Linked DNA regions of Homo sapiens: regions 2 and 3 are each linked to region 1. Evidence: fine-mapped expression QTL. A gene starts in region 1. Each other region holds a variant in brackets. All regions are shown on one strand. Distances are from middle to middle.

Region 1 (4,172 bases):
GGCACACAATCAGGTACACAGCAGGTGCTCCATAAATACTCCAAGGAGTGATTAAAAGAAAAGGTCTTTGGAAAGAGTGACTGGAATGGTACACACAGCAAGTGCCAGATATCTGAGCACTGTATTAACTGGAGGCACAGGCCTTTATGGAGAGGTCTAAGGTTGGGTCATGCAGAAAGTGCTCAATACATGCAGACTGAAGCCACTGGAGGAAAGGGTATTGCAGAAAGGGTTTGAGGGTGGGGTATACAGCAGGCACCAGTCAATGCATGCTTGCTGAATACACTGGAGGAAAGAACTTTTAGAGAAGGCTCACACTGCAGGCAGTTGATAAATGCTAGATGGATCCACCAAAGGAAAGGTCTTTGAAGAAGTAGCTGGAGAACGGGGGATACAAGAGGCACTCAATAAATGTTTTCTAGATCCACTGTAGGGAAAGGTCTTTGAGGAGACGGTCTGAAGATGAGTCACACAAAGAAGGTTCAAAACTGCTCATGGAACTCACTGGAGGAAAATGATTTGTTTGAGAAGGGGTTTGGGGGTGCGGCACGTATCAGGCACTTAACAAATGCTTCCTAGATCCTTTGGAGAAAAGGCCCTCAGAGAGAGGGCTTGGAGTTGGGGCACAGAGAAGGCATCCAATCAAAACTCACAGGATCCATGAAAGGCAAAGCTTTTGGAGAGAAGCTGGGGTGGGATACACAGCAGGTACTCAATGTTTACTAAATAGTTTAAAAGGGCTTTAAGGACGGAGCTGGGGTGGGACACATAGCATAGACTGGACACATGCTCACAAGACCCATTAGAGAAGGCCTCAGGGCAAGGGTTGAGGAGAACAGGACAGTATCAGGCTCTCAAAGAATGCTCACAAACCTCATTGAAATCAAAGGCCTTGGGGAAGGGCTCTTGGATGAGGCATACTGCAGGTACTAGATAAGTGCTCACAAGATCCATTAGAGGACAAGGCCTATGGGGCAAGGGTTGGGGAGGGTAGGAAGGACACGTTCGGTTTTCGAAGGCTCATAGGATATATTGAAGCCAAAGACTTTTGGGGGAGGGGTAGTAGGGAACAGGTACGCAGCAGGTGCCTGATAATTGCTCCCTGGATCCATCAAGGTTTAAGGGGCGGAGGGGGGCGACAAGGGCGGGGCACAGAGGAAGCATCCAGCTTAATAATTTAAAGGAAAAAGATTTAGGTGAGAGGGCCAGGTGTCAGGCACACAAGCGGCGCTCGATAATTGCTCATTCGCAGAAGAACGATCTGGGGACCCAGGCCCACGGGAGACGTCCGCGGCAGTGGCTTACCAGTCGGTGTGCGGCTCGTCGATGACCAGCAGCACCCTGGAGGCGGCTCCCCCGCGGCCTGCGCCCCCAGAGCCGCCGCCCACCTGCTCGCTGAAGGTGGCAGCTGCCGCCGCCGTGGTCTGCTTGACCGCGTTGGACAGCGACGAGAAGAAGCCACCGCCCCCCGAGGACCCGGGGCTAGGGGCGGCCGGAGAGGCCGCTGGGGCGACCCCGGAGGACCTCTCGGCAGTGGCGGTCCCGGGACCGGGCGTGGCTCCGGGGCTGTGGGCACCGGGCGGCGGTGGGGGCGGCTGCGGACGCTGCAGGTCTGTCATGTACCCATTTGGCAGATTGGCCATAAAGTTGCTGTCCGACAGGCGGCGCCGCAGGTAGTTCATGGCTGCGACTTGGGGCAGGGGGTCCTAGGGGTGGTCTGGCCAGGAGCCGCGGGGGCGGACTGCGCGGTGCCCAGGAGCACAGCTGCGCTCTCAGGCACGACACGACTCCTCCGCTGCCCACCGCAGACTGAGGCAGCGCTGAGTCGCCGGCGCCGCAGCGCAGATGGTCGCGCCCGTGCCCCCCTATCTCGCGCCTCGCGTGGTGCGGTCCGGCTGGGCCGGCGGCGGCGCGGACGCGACCAAGGTGGCCGGGAAGGGGAGTTTGCGGGGGACCGGCGAGTGACGTCAGCGCGCCTTCAGTGCTGAGGCGGCGGTGGCGCGCGCCGCCAGGCGGGGGCGAAGGCACTGTCCGCGGTGCTGAAGCTGGCAGTGCGCACGCGCCTCGCCGCATCCTGTTTCCCCTCCCCCTCTCTGATAGGGGATGCGCAATTTGGGGAATGGGGGTTGGGTGCTTGTCCAGTGGGTCGGGGTCGGTCGTCAGGTAGGCACCCCCACCCCGCCTCATCCTGGTCCTAAAACCCACTTGCACTCATACGCAGGGCCCTCTGCAGATACTCGGTTTGTAGTGTTGATATTCAACTCAGAAGGCATTTTTTGGGGGGAGGGGGGCACTGGAAGCACACTCAGAGACACGAAAGTAGAGAAATAACCCCCTCACAGAGGGGGGTGAGGTCACACGCAGTGCCCGCGGGGAGATTAGTCTCCCACATCCACACAGGCTCAGCTAGGCAGAGAGCGGGGGCGTCACAGACAGCATCAGACAAGCGGAGGTGGACACTTGGGTGGTGTACACACCCTTGCCCAAGGTGGCAAGGGGGGCCTGGAGGCACACAAGAAATGACACACATATAAACACACACAAAAGTGAGGAAACATACGAGGGCATGTACAGACAGAACACACGCCAATCTAGGTATACATACAGACATACAAGTCCAGAGTAACACACATGGGCATGTTACATACATGCATGCATACACCCATACCCCCACACACACAGGTAACACACTGACACACAGAGACCCAGGGAAACTCATATGAGCATACACTTGCAGACAAAACACATTCCCACCGATGATCATGGAGAAACCTAGATCTGCAACACAGACATTCTCTGCAGCCCTAGCCCTGGTGCGTGTCCACCCCCACACCAGAACACACTTGGTATATACGCCACCATCCCTTTGCTCTGGACACCGCCAAAACTCACGATAACTACCTGATGTCATCAGTGCCCATGGCTGTCTCCCCCTGCACCCAAGAACTTTCCACAGAGGCAGGCCCATCCCATGGTGCACACACAGTAGGTACCAAATAATGTTTGCATATGAGCAAATGAGGTAGTCCAAGCAGAGGTGGGATATGGGAACCTGTCAAATCTTTATGATTCTGACTACAATAAAAGCACTAATTCATAATCATTTGTTCACTGATTGTACCCAACTCTTAACTAAGCTGTTTACATGCATCATTTCATCCAACCCTCACAACAATCCAGTGGGGTGGATAATATAATGTCTATTTTACAGATGAGGGAATACAAGAACTCCAGTTAATTCCCAAAGGGTCATGTTCACTTTATGATCAACACATTTTTTTAAGAATGTGCCAGGAAGAGGAAACATCCAGTGCCAATGTGGCTGGAACAAGCTGAAGGGGGTTGTGGTAGCAGGGGCCAGATTGGGTAGGACCTTGACCATAGTGAGCAGTGATGGTGGACTAGGAGAGGTGGCAGAAGATAGGCAAGAAGTAAGTAGATATGGAGTCTCTTTTGCCTGCAGAATTTTCAGGTGACTCATCCACTTATTCATTTGTTCATCCTTTATTCATTAAATCATTGGCTGGTTTAAACAAGGCAGTAATAGTGTGGGGTCTGGAGACACAGTGCCTGGGTTCAAGTGGGGCCTCCACCATACACTTGGGAAAGTGACTTAATCTTTCTGAGATTTGGTTTCCTCATCTGTAAAAAGGATACATCTCTAACCCACCTCTAAGGAGAGGGGTAGGAAGGGGGCAACCTCTGTACCTTTGCATGTGTTGTAACTTCTGCCAGGAATGTCCTCTCCTTCTCTCTCGAGGGCTGCCTTTGGCCACTGTCTGCAGGAACCCCTCACCCCCAGGTCTCAGATTCTATCCCCTCCTCCCCTAGGCTTCCACAGTACCCAAGTCAAACACTTCCCAAACCATCCTCTACTCCCTCCTCCAACCCAGCCAGCTTCAGTCCCACCTCCAGGCCTTTGATTTGGCCACTCTTTTCTCCTCCCTTCAGGATTCCTTCTCTGGCATTCCAAATCCTAGTGTTACCCAGATGGGGATCTCCCCGCAAATCAGATATTTTCCAATGTCTTGAAGTATGTGCTCCCTGGTTTTTTGCCCAGTAACGGAAGCAAACAAGCTGTGCAGGGCGCGGTGCCCTCTTTGGGGACAGGAACAGCTGCAGGTCTACAGATCTTTCTGACTCCTTTAGGTCTGAATTCAGGTTCCTCGGGA
Region 2 (4,172 bases), 46 kb before region 1:
TTTGGGGGGTCCCTTTTGTGTCTCCCCCGCCATTCAAGGACTCCTCTCTTTCTTCACCAAGAAGCACAGAATTCTGCTGGGCCTTTGCTTGTTTATTTTGTTTCCCGACTCTTCTCTTGGGGTTCAGAGCCGCTGAGGGGTGGGGTGAGTCCAGGCAAGGAGTGAAGGTCAGGGGGAGGTGCGGACCACATAAACAGCGTCACTGCACGCATCACCACAGGCGGCACGATGAACGAGGACCACATATGCCAAGCACGGCACAAAAGGAGGCCACGTCAGTCACAGACACAGACACCACAGCAAAGGTGGGGAAGCGGAGACCACTGGCCTTCCGTGTGCAAAGGATTCTGGGAAGATGGGTGGAGTTTGCATATTTAAAGACAGCTGTCAGAGGCAGGAAACTGGGGAGGGGGTCCCTGGGGGAACCGAGGGGTCCTGGAAGTGGGAGGGGCTCCCAAGGTATTGAATGAGGTTGAGGGGAGCTGGTGAAGGGAAATCCTTGTGGGGCTAGGTGTTGGGTGGCATTTGAAGATGTGGATCTTCAGAGGGATGGAAGATCCATGGGAAGGGGCTCAACAGTAGGGGTTTCTTGAGGATTTGGAAAATTATGATGGGAAATAGGTGTGCTGGAGAGATTTGGGACCAAAAATAGGGTTTTCCAGGAACTTCAGGGCTCCAGGAAGGGATTCTGCAATGGGTTGCCTGGTATTTGGGCACTTCCAGGAAGGAAAACGCCCTCTGGGGAAACCAGGGGCGGAGGTCTTCAGGAATGTGGAGGTTCTAAAACAGAAGTAGATCCTGAAGTGACCACGAGTGGGGTTCTAAAAGGACTTGGGGATTCCACATGTGAGAACCGGATTTAGGGCCAGGAGGAGTCAGGTTTCTCAAGGTACTCGGGGATCTTGAGGAATGAGAGGTGGAATCTTGGAGAACCGGGAGATGGGTTCTCAAGGGATTTGGAGACTCCAAAAGTGAGAAATGGATTCAGGGCCCAGAGAAGGGTTGCCCAGGGATTTTGGGGTTCTCAGAGTGGGGTATCAGTCGGAGAAGAGGCTGGCGAAAGACTTCCTCAGGCTGCGGATGGTCTCAGCTTTCACCTCGTCCTGGCTAAGGCTGGGCCTGGGCGGGGCTGGCTCTGGAAGGTTGAAGGCATTGGTCAGAGACTGGGATTTGCTAGAGAGAGACAAGGTGGAGGCGTGGGAGGAAGGGGGAAGAGGAAGGGGAGGAAGGGGAGAGAAACACAACGTTACCCCAGGCCCAGCCCCAGCCCTGCCCCTCTGATCCTGGGGCTGTGCCTGTGACCTCCCCACCTGCCACCATGGGCCTGGACCCTAACAGGTTCTCAAGGCTGGGAGCACTCAGGTGGAGTGGGTGGAGTCCTGGGCCAGGGAGGCGAGATCTGGGACAGGCTGGGAGGACTTGGATCCAGGGTGAAGTGTGGGATTCGTGGCAAGAGTCCTGGGCAGAACCTTCTCTGTGAATTCTTGGCTAGTTTGATACAAAGGGGAAGATGAGCAGGGA[A/G]GTTTCCAATCTAAGGGTGAGGTGTCTAGGAGGGCATAGAAAGGGCTTGGACCAAGGACAGGCTGTTGGGCAAGTCAGCCTAAGGCAGAGCAGCTGGGTGGGGCAGGGAGGACGTCTGAGCTGGGATGGGAGTTGGAATGGACCAGAAAAGGCAGATGGGTGATGATTCGCGGGGAGACTGAGATGGGCCAGAAGGATGTGAAGGAGGAGGAAAAGTATGAGGATGGAGTGGGAAGAGCCAGATGATAGGAGGACTAGGACTCGGGCCAGGAGTTTTAGGGATGGGTTGGTGGCGGGGGGGCGAGTTTGGCAGGGAAGGCTCTGGGCTGGGCAGGAAGTTGCAGAGGGTGGGTCAGCCAGGTGCCTGGGAGGCCCTGGAGGAGGAAACTTTCCCAGGGCCTTTGAGGAGGAATTCGAACTGAGTGCAGTTTCTCTGGGATTCTGGCACCAAATTCCTGGGGTGGGGGTGCGGAGCCTCTGGTGGGCCGGGAGGAGCGAAAGCTTGGGGGAAGGGCTTGGCTCAGGCTGGAGAGAGTTCGTGGGACCCCTGCATAGGACCTGGGTCTGAGGAGCAAGGGAGCTAGGGCTGCTCTACTGGGGCAGCGGCCCGCTTTGTGAGCAGCAAGGCGAAGGCTGCTGTAGGGGTCCCCTTACTTGAGCTGGGGGTGCGGAGGTCCCCCTGCAGCGGCGGTGGCGGGTGGCGGCACGTCCTGGCTGGGTTTCTGGGCCAGCTGTGGTTTGGGACGTCCAGCGGGGCCCGGGCCGCTGGGCCGAGGCTGCTGCGTGGTGGGTGGCCCAGTGCGGGGCACGGGACCCGCCTGGCTGGCCTGGCGTGTGGGGCCGGCTGGGCCTGGGGGTTTCTGGGGCGGGCCCTGGCGCTGCTGCCCGCCCGGTGGGGCCCCAGAGGCCTTTGGCGGAGCCGGGCCAGAGACGGATGTCTGACGGGTAGCCTGTGGGGGGCCCGCCTGGCGCTGGGGAGACGGAGAGGCGGGCGGGCGGGCTGCTGGAGGCGCCCCGGGGCCTCCCGCCACTGGCCGGGATTGGCGGCCTTGACCCTGGGTCGGCGGCGCGGCCTGGGACGCGGGCTGCTGGGGCGCTGAGGTGGGACTTGGAAGGCGCTGGGGCAGGGGGCTGCCAGCTGGGGGTCCAAGGCCTGAAAGGTGCTGCTGGCCCTGCGGGGGCGGGCGCTGCTGCAATGGGGGTCCCTGGCGCTGGGGGCCTGGACCCGGCTGTGGAGGGCCGCCTGGGGGACAGAGGGAGAGAAAGAGCACACGTGAGAGTGAGCGGGTAAGAGATGGCGGGCTGAGGGAGGGGACTGCGACCGCCAGCCTCTCGCTTACCCTGTGGTGGGGGTCGCTGCTGAGCCGGGGGCCCTGCGGGCTGCTGGGAGGTCTGGCGGCCCAAGGGCAGGGCCCCTGGGGACGGAGTCTGCGGCAGAGGAATGGAGCAGGAGAGGTTAAAAATAGTTACCAGCCAGTGGAGCATCAGCCAGTGATGACACAGGTTCCCTGTGCGCTGGGTGTTGCCCCACTTGTGGCTGAGCTGAGGGTACTCTGGGTTGTGGGGTGGGGGACCTGTTCCCAGGGGCGGGGCAGGGAGGTGCTCAGGGAAGTCAGGGCAGCAGCTGCTTATCAATGTTTTAAACAATTGGCAATCGCAGCCACATGTGTGCAAAGGTGATGCTGTGAGCCTACAGATTATCAGCTTCATGGCACAGCATGACCCAGGGCCGGCCTCCCCACACTAGCTCAAGCCACTAGCTCAGCGCCAGGGGCCTGACCTGGCCATGGGAGCCCCTGCCAGGGGAGGCATCCCGCTGTCGCTGCCGGGGCAGGGCCTGAGCCATCTTGTTGACCACGAGCTCTACGATGAGCTGTTTGTCTTCATCCTGGTGGTCACCAATGAGCGGCATGGAGGAACCCACCACCTGGGGGAAGGAAAGGATCCGTGAGGGGAGAGGCAGGCCTCGCACCTGAGGCGGCAGTAACACCGTGCTTTCAGTTGGCCAAGGGCATGGCCGCCGCTGAGCCCCAGTGTCTGAGGCACTGATTGTGCACGGTGAGGAAGGCTTGTCTGTTCCAAGGTACCTTACAGCTTAGAAGGTGCTTCAGAGCAGGGCTCAGCAAATTAGGGCCCATGGGCCCAACCTGGCCGACCACCTGGTTCTGTATGACCCAGAGCTAAGGATGGGTCTTTAAATTTTGTAACAGTTGAAAAAAATCGAAAGATTTTATAACATGCGAAAATGGCATGAAATTTAAATTTCAATGTCCATAAACAAAGTTTTATTGGAACACAGCCACACTTATTTTTTTAACATATCGTCTATGGCTGCTTTTGCAGAGTTGAGTAGTTACGGCAGAGGCTACGTGGCCTACAAAGCCTAAAATATGTACCGTCTGCTCCTTTACAGAAAATGTTTGCCGATCCCTGCTTCACGGTTTTCTAGGTGCTTTGTCCTTTCCAAAATGCTTTGCTGTCGGTCCAGTTCGCAGAATACTTTAAAGGTTACTAAGTGCCTCGCCATTCACCAAGATGTCTCGATTCGCAGAGCACTAAACAATCTAATAAGGGTTTTGCTAGTCACCAGGGACGTGCAAGTTCAGTCTAGTGTTCTGCCATTGCAAGGGATGGCCCCTTCGAAAGTTCGT
Region 3 (4,172 bases), 21 kb before region 1:
AAGAAGAAAAGTAAACAAAATGAACACAGTCCTAGAGGTCTGTGGAACACCATGAAGCATATGAACACCCACATAATGGAAGTCCCAAAAGGAGAGAGAAAAGAGAGAAAAAAAGGTGCAAGAAAGACTATTTGAAGGAATAATGGCTAAAAATCCCCCCAATTTGATTTAAAGCATTAATCTATGCATTCAAGAAGTGCACTGAACTCCAACTAAGATAAATTCAAAGAGATAGGCACCCAGACACATCATAAACTTATAAAAGCTAAAGACAGAGAGAATCTTGAAAGTAAGAGAGAAGTAACTCATCATATACAAGGAATCCTCAATAGGATTAGCAGCTAATTTCTCATTAGAAATCTTGAAGTCAGAGGGCAGTAGGACAACATATTCAAAGTACTGAAAGAAAAAGACTGCCAAACAAGAATTCTACATCCAGCAAAATTATCTTTCAAAAATGAAGGAGAAATTAAGACATTCACAGATAAACAAAAACTGAGATAGTTCATCACTAACAAACTTCTACAAAAAATGCTAAACGGAGTCCTTCAGGGTGAAATAAAATGATACTAGCTAGTAATGTAAATCTACATAAAGAAATAAATAGCACCTGTAAAGTTAACTACATAGGTAAATATAAAAGACAGTATAAATGCATTTTTTTGCGTGTAACACTTTTTTACTCCTGATTTAAAAGACAACTGCATAAAGCAATAACTATAACTATGTTCATGGGCACACAATGTGTAAAGATGTAATTTGTTTGACAATAATAGCACAAAGGAGGGATGAAGGAATAAAGTTATATAGAGGCAATTTCTTTGTATTACTGAGCTTAATTTGGTATTAATTCTAATTGGAGTAATATAAATAATGATGTTAATTGTAATACCCAAGGAAACAACTAAGAAAAAAAAAAAACAGGCTAAGTGCAGTGGCTCATGCCTGTAATCACAACACTTTGGGAGGCCAAGGTGGGTAACTTGAGCTCAGGAGTTTGAGACCAGCATGGGCAACATGGCAAGGTCCTGTCTCTACAAAAAAATTAAAAATTGGCCAGGTGCGGTGGCACACGCCTGTAATCCCAGTACTTTGGGAAGCCAAGGTGGGCAGATCACAAGGTCAGGAGTTCGAGACCAGCCTGGCCAACATGGTGAAACCCCGCCTCAATTAAAATACAAAAAAATTAGCTGGGTGTGGTGGCAGGCACCTGTAGTCCCAGCTACTAAGAAGGCTGAGGCAGGAGAATTGCTTGAACCCAGGAGGTGGAGGTTGCAGTGAGCCGAGATCGTGCCACTGCACTCCAGCCTGGGTGACAGAGTGAGACTTTGTCTCAAAATAAATAAATAAATAAATAAATAAAAAATAAAAAACTAAAAATTAGCTGAGCATGATAGCACATGCCTGTGGTCCCAGCTATTCAGGAGGCTGAGGCAGGAGGGTAGCTTGAGCCCAGGAGGTTGAGGCTGCAATGAGCCATGTTCCTACCATGGCACTCTGGCCTGGGTGACAGAGCAAGACCCTGTATCAAAAAAAAATAAAAATTTTTTAAATTAAAAAAATGAATAAAAGACATAGGGAAGAAATAACAGAAAAATTAAAAATGGTACACTAGAAAATATCTGTTTAACTTAAAAGAAGGCATTACTAGAGGAATACAGGAACAAAAAATAAGATATAGAAAACAAATAGCAAAATTGCAAACATAAACCCTACCTTATCAGGAATTACAATAACATAAGTTAATTAAACACTGCGATTAACCCTTTTCCTGTTTAGGAAAAAAAAACGTGCAGCTTGCTGCCTGTGCTCACTAGATTTTATATAAACATGCTCTTTGAGGCTGAAGCAAAGCTAACTGATTTTCAATGTCAAAACAAAATATAAAAACTATTCTTGGAGTTATTTCTAAGCTGAACTAACATCAGAATCATCTGAATCATCAGAATCATCTGAATCATCAGAACCATCTATTTTGGAAAAATCAGATTCATCAAATGATTCTTCATCCAACGACTGTTCAAGAACGATGTTAACATCATTTGTAGGGATGTTACATTTTCTAGGATTTGACATTTTCAATGATTGAGAATTACTATATTTTGTAAGTGGAAATACCACTCCTAAAAACAGAATGCTATAAATAGAATGATGTCTTTTGTTTCCAAAGTCGATATACTAGAGTGATGTGAAAATAATAATAAAAATGAGACAGTTTGTGGCAAAGTTATCTC[A/G]GGGTAAACACTGCAGCCGCAAGTGCCATCAGAGAGTGTTCTCAGCACAAACGGTAAAGGGTTAATAGGCACAGTGGATGAAAAACGTGACTTAATTATATGCTATCTGTAAGAGGCACATTTTAGATTCAAAGACCCAAATAAGTTGAAAGTAAATGGATGGAAAAAGATTTACCATGCAAACAATAGCCAAAAGAGAGCTGGAATAGCTATACTAATATGAGGTAAAATAGAATTTAAAACAGCAATTGTTACTTGAGATAAAGAAAAATATTTTATAAGCATAAATGGTCAATCCATCAAGAAGATTTAACAATAATAAGTATATGTGCACCTAACAACACAGCACAAAATATATGAAATAAAAACAGGCAGAATTGGAGACAGAAATAGACAATTCAACAATTATAGCTGAAGACTTCAATATCTCATTTAAAGAAATGGGTAAAACAACTAGACAGGGAACCAAAAAGGAAGTTTTTTTTTTTTTTGGAGACGTGGTCTCACTCAGACTGGAGTGCAGTGGTGCAATCTCAGCTCACTGCAACCTCCACTTTCTGGGCTCAAGTGATCCTCCCACTTCAGCCTCCTGAGTAGCTGGGACTATAGGCGTGTGCCACCATGTGGCTTTTTGTGTGTGCATGTGTATTTTTTGCAGAGTTGGGGTTTTGCCATGTAGCCCAGGATGGTCTTGAACTCCTGCACTCAAGCAATCCACCCGCCTCAGACTCCCAAGGTGCTGGAATTAGAGGTGTGAGCTACTGTGCATGGCCAATAAGGAAGATTTGAAAAATGCTATAAACCAATTAGACCTCATAAACATCTATAGAACACTTCACCCTACAATGGCAGAATACACATTCTTCTTCAGTGCACATGGAACATTCTTCAGGACAGACTATATGTTAAGCCAGAAAACAAATCTCAGTAAATTGAAAAGGACTGAAATTATACAAAATATGTTCTCTGACCACAATGGAATGAAATTAGACATCAAAAACAGAAGAAAATTTGAAAAATTTACAAATATGTGGAAAGTAACACACTCCTAAATAACCAATAGGTCAAAGAAGAAATCACAAGTGAAATTAGAAGATACTTTGAGATGAATGAAAATGAACACACAACATATCAAAATGTAAGGGATGCAGTTAAAGTGGTGCTTAAAGGAGAATTCATAGTTGTAACTGCCTATATCTAAAAAGAAGAAAGATATCAAAATCAGTAACCTAATCTTCCATTTTTTTCTAGGAAATTAGAAAGAAAAGAGCAAACTAAGTCCAAAGCAAGCACAAGGAAAAACATAATAAGAGTAGAAATAAATGACATAAAGAATTTTAAAAATAGAGAACTAATAAAACAAAAATTTGGTTCTTTGAAAAGATCAATAAAATTGATAAACCTTTAGACTAAGAATAAAAAAGGGCAGAAAATTCTAATTACTAAAATCAGGAATGAAAGAGTGGACATACTACTGACCTTACAGAAATAAAAAGTATTATAAGAGAGTATAAGAGAGTACTGTGAACAATTATGTGCCAGTAAGTTAGAAAACCTAGATGAAATGGACAAATTCCTAGAAAGACACAAACTACAAAAACTGACTCAGTAAGAAATGGAAAATCTCAATAGACCTATAACAAGTGAAGAGATTGATTTAGGAATAAGTAAAACTTCCTACAAAGACATACCCAGGACCAGATGTCTTCACTGGTGAATTCTACTAAACATTTAAAAAGAATTAATACCGACCAGGCATGGTGGCTCACACCTGTAATCCTAGCATTTTGGTAGGCCAAAGCAGGAGGATCGCTTGAGCCCAGGGGTTCAAGACCAGCCTGAGCAACACAGCAAGACCCTGTCTCAAAAAAAGAAAAAAAATTAATGCCAATCTTCACAAAATCTTCCCAAAAATAGAAGAAGGAACACTGTCCAACT

Alleles and levels. Alleles are on the strand shown, and positions count from the first base shown. SD is a standard deviation of normalised expression in the study named. Not every link is listed here.
With allele A in place of G in region 2, the expression in fibroblasts of the gene that starts at base 1,811 in region 1 is higher (small effect, 0.12 SD a copy in GTEx).

What was found. PIP is the estimated chance that this variant, and not a neighbour inherited with it, causes the effect.
Region 2: its variant is the best candidate, but not a certain one, in a credible set for the expression of SYN1 in fibroblasts (GTEx, PIP 0.64).
Region 3: its variant is the best candidate, but not a certain one, in a credible set for the expression of SYN1 in whole blood (TOPMed, PIP 0.60).

The regions. Positions count from the first base shown.
Region 1 is chrX:47,618,047-47,622,218 of GRCh38, forward strand. SYN1 (synapsin I) reads right to left here and starts at 1,811. Exons shown (of 13, transcript NM_006950.3): 1 at 1,306-1,811. The coding sequence starts at 1,682. RefSeq lists silencers at 1,824-2,118, 1,825-2,034.
Region 2 is chrX:47,571,827-47,575,998 of GRCh38, forward strand. It overlaps ARAF (A-Raf proto-oncogene, serine/threonine kinase), which reads left to right. Exons shown (of 16, transcript NM_001654.5): 16 at 1-82. SYN1 (synapsin I) reads right to left here. Exons shown (of 13, transcript NM_006950.3): 10 at 3,302-3,448; 11 at 2,862-2,949; 12 at 2,176-2,764; 13 at 75-1,173. The coding sequence ends at 1,038. Among named protein-coding and RNA genes, the nearest start is that of TIMP1, 8.5 kb to the right of the region's middle. RefSeq lists enhancers at 2,974-3,481, 3,482-3,988, 4,081-4,172. The variant A/G (reference allele first, on the strand shown) is at 1,522.
Region 3 is chrX:47,597,492-47,601,663 of GRCh38, forward strand. All of the region lies in intron 5 of SYN1 (synapsin I), which reads right to left. Among named protein-coding and RNA genes, the nearest start is that of MIR4769, 12 kb to the left of the region's middle. The variant A/G (reference allele first, on the strand shown) is at 2,235.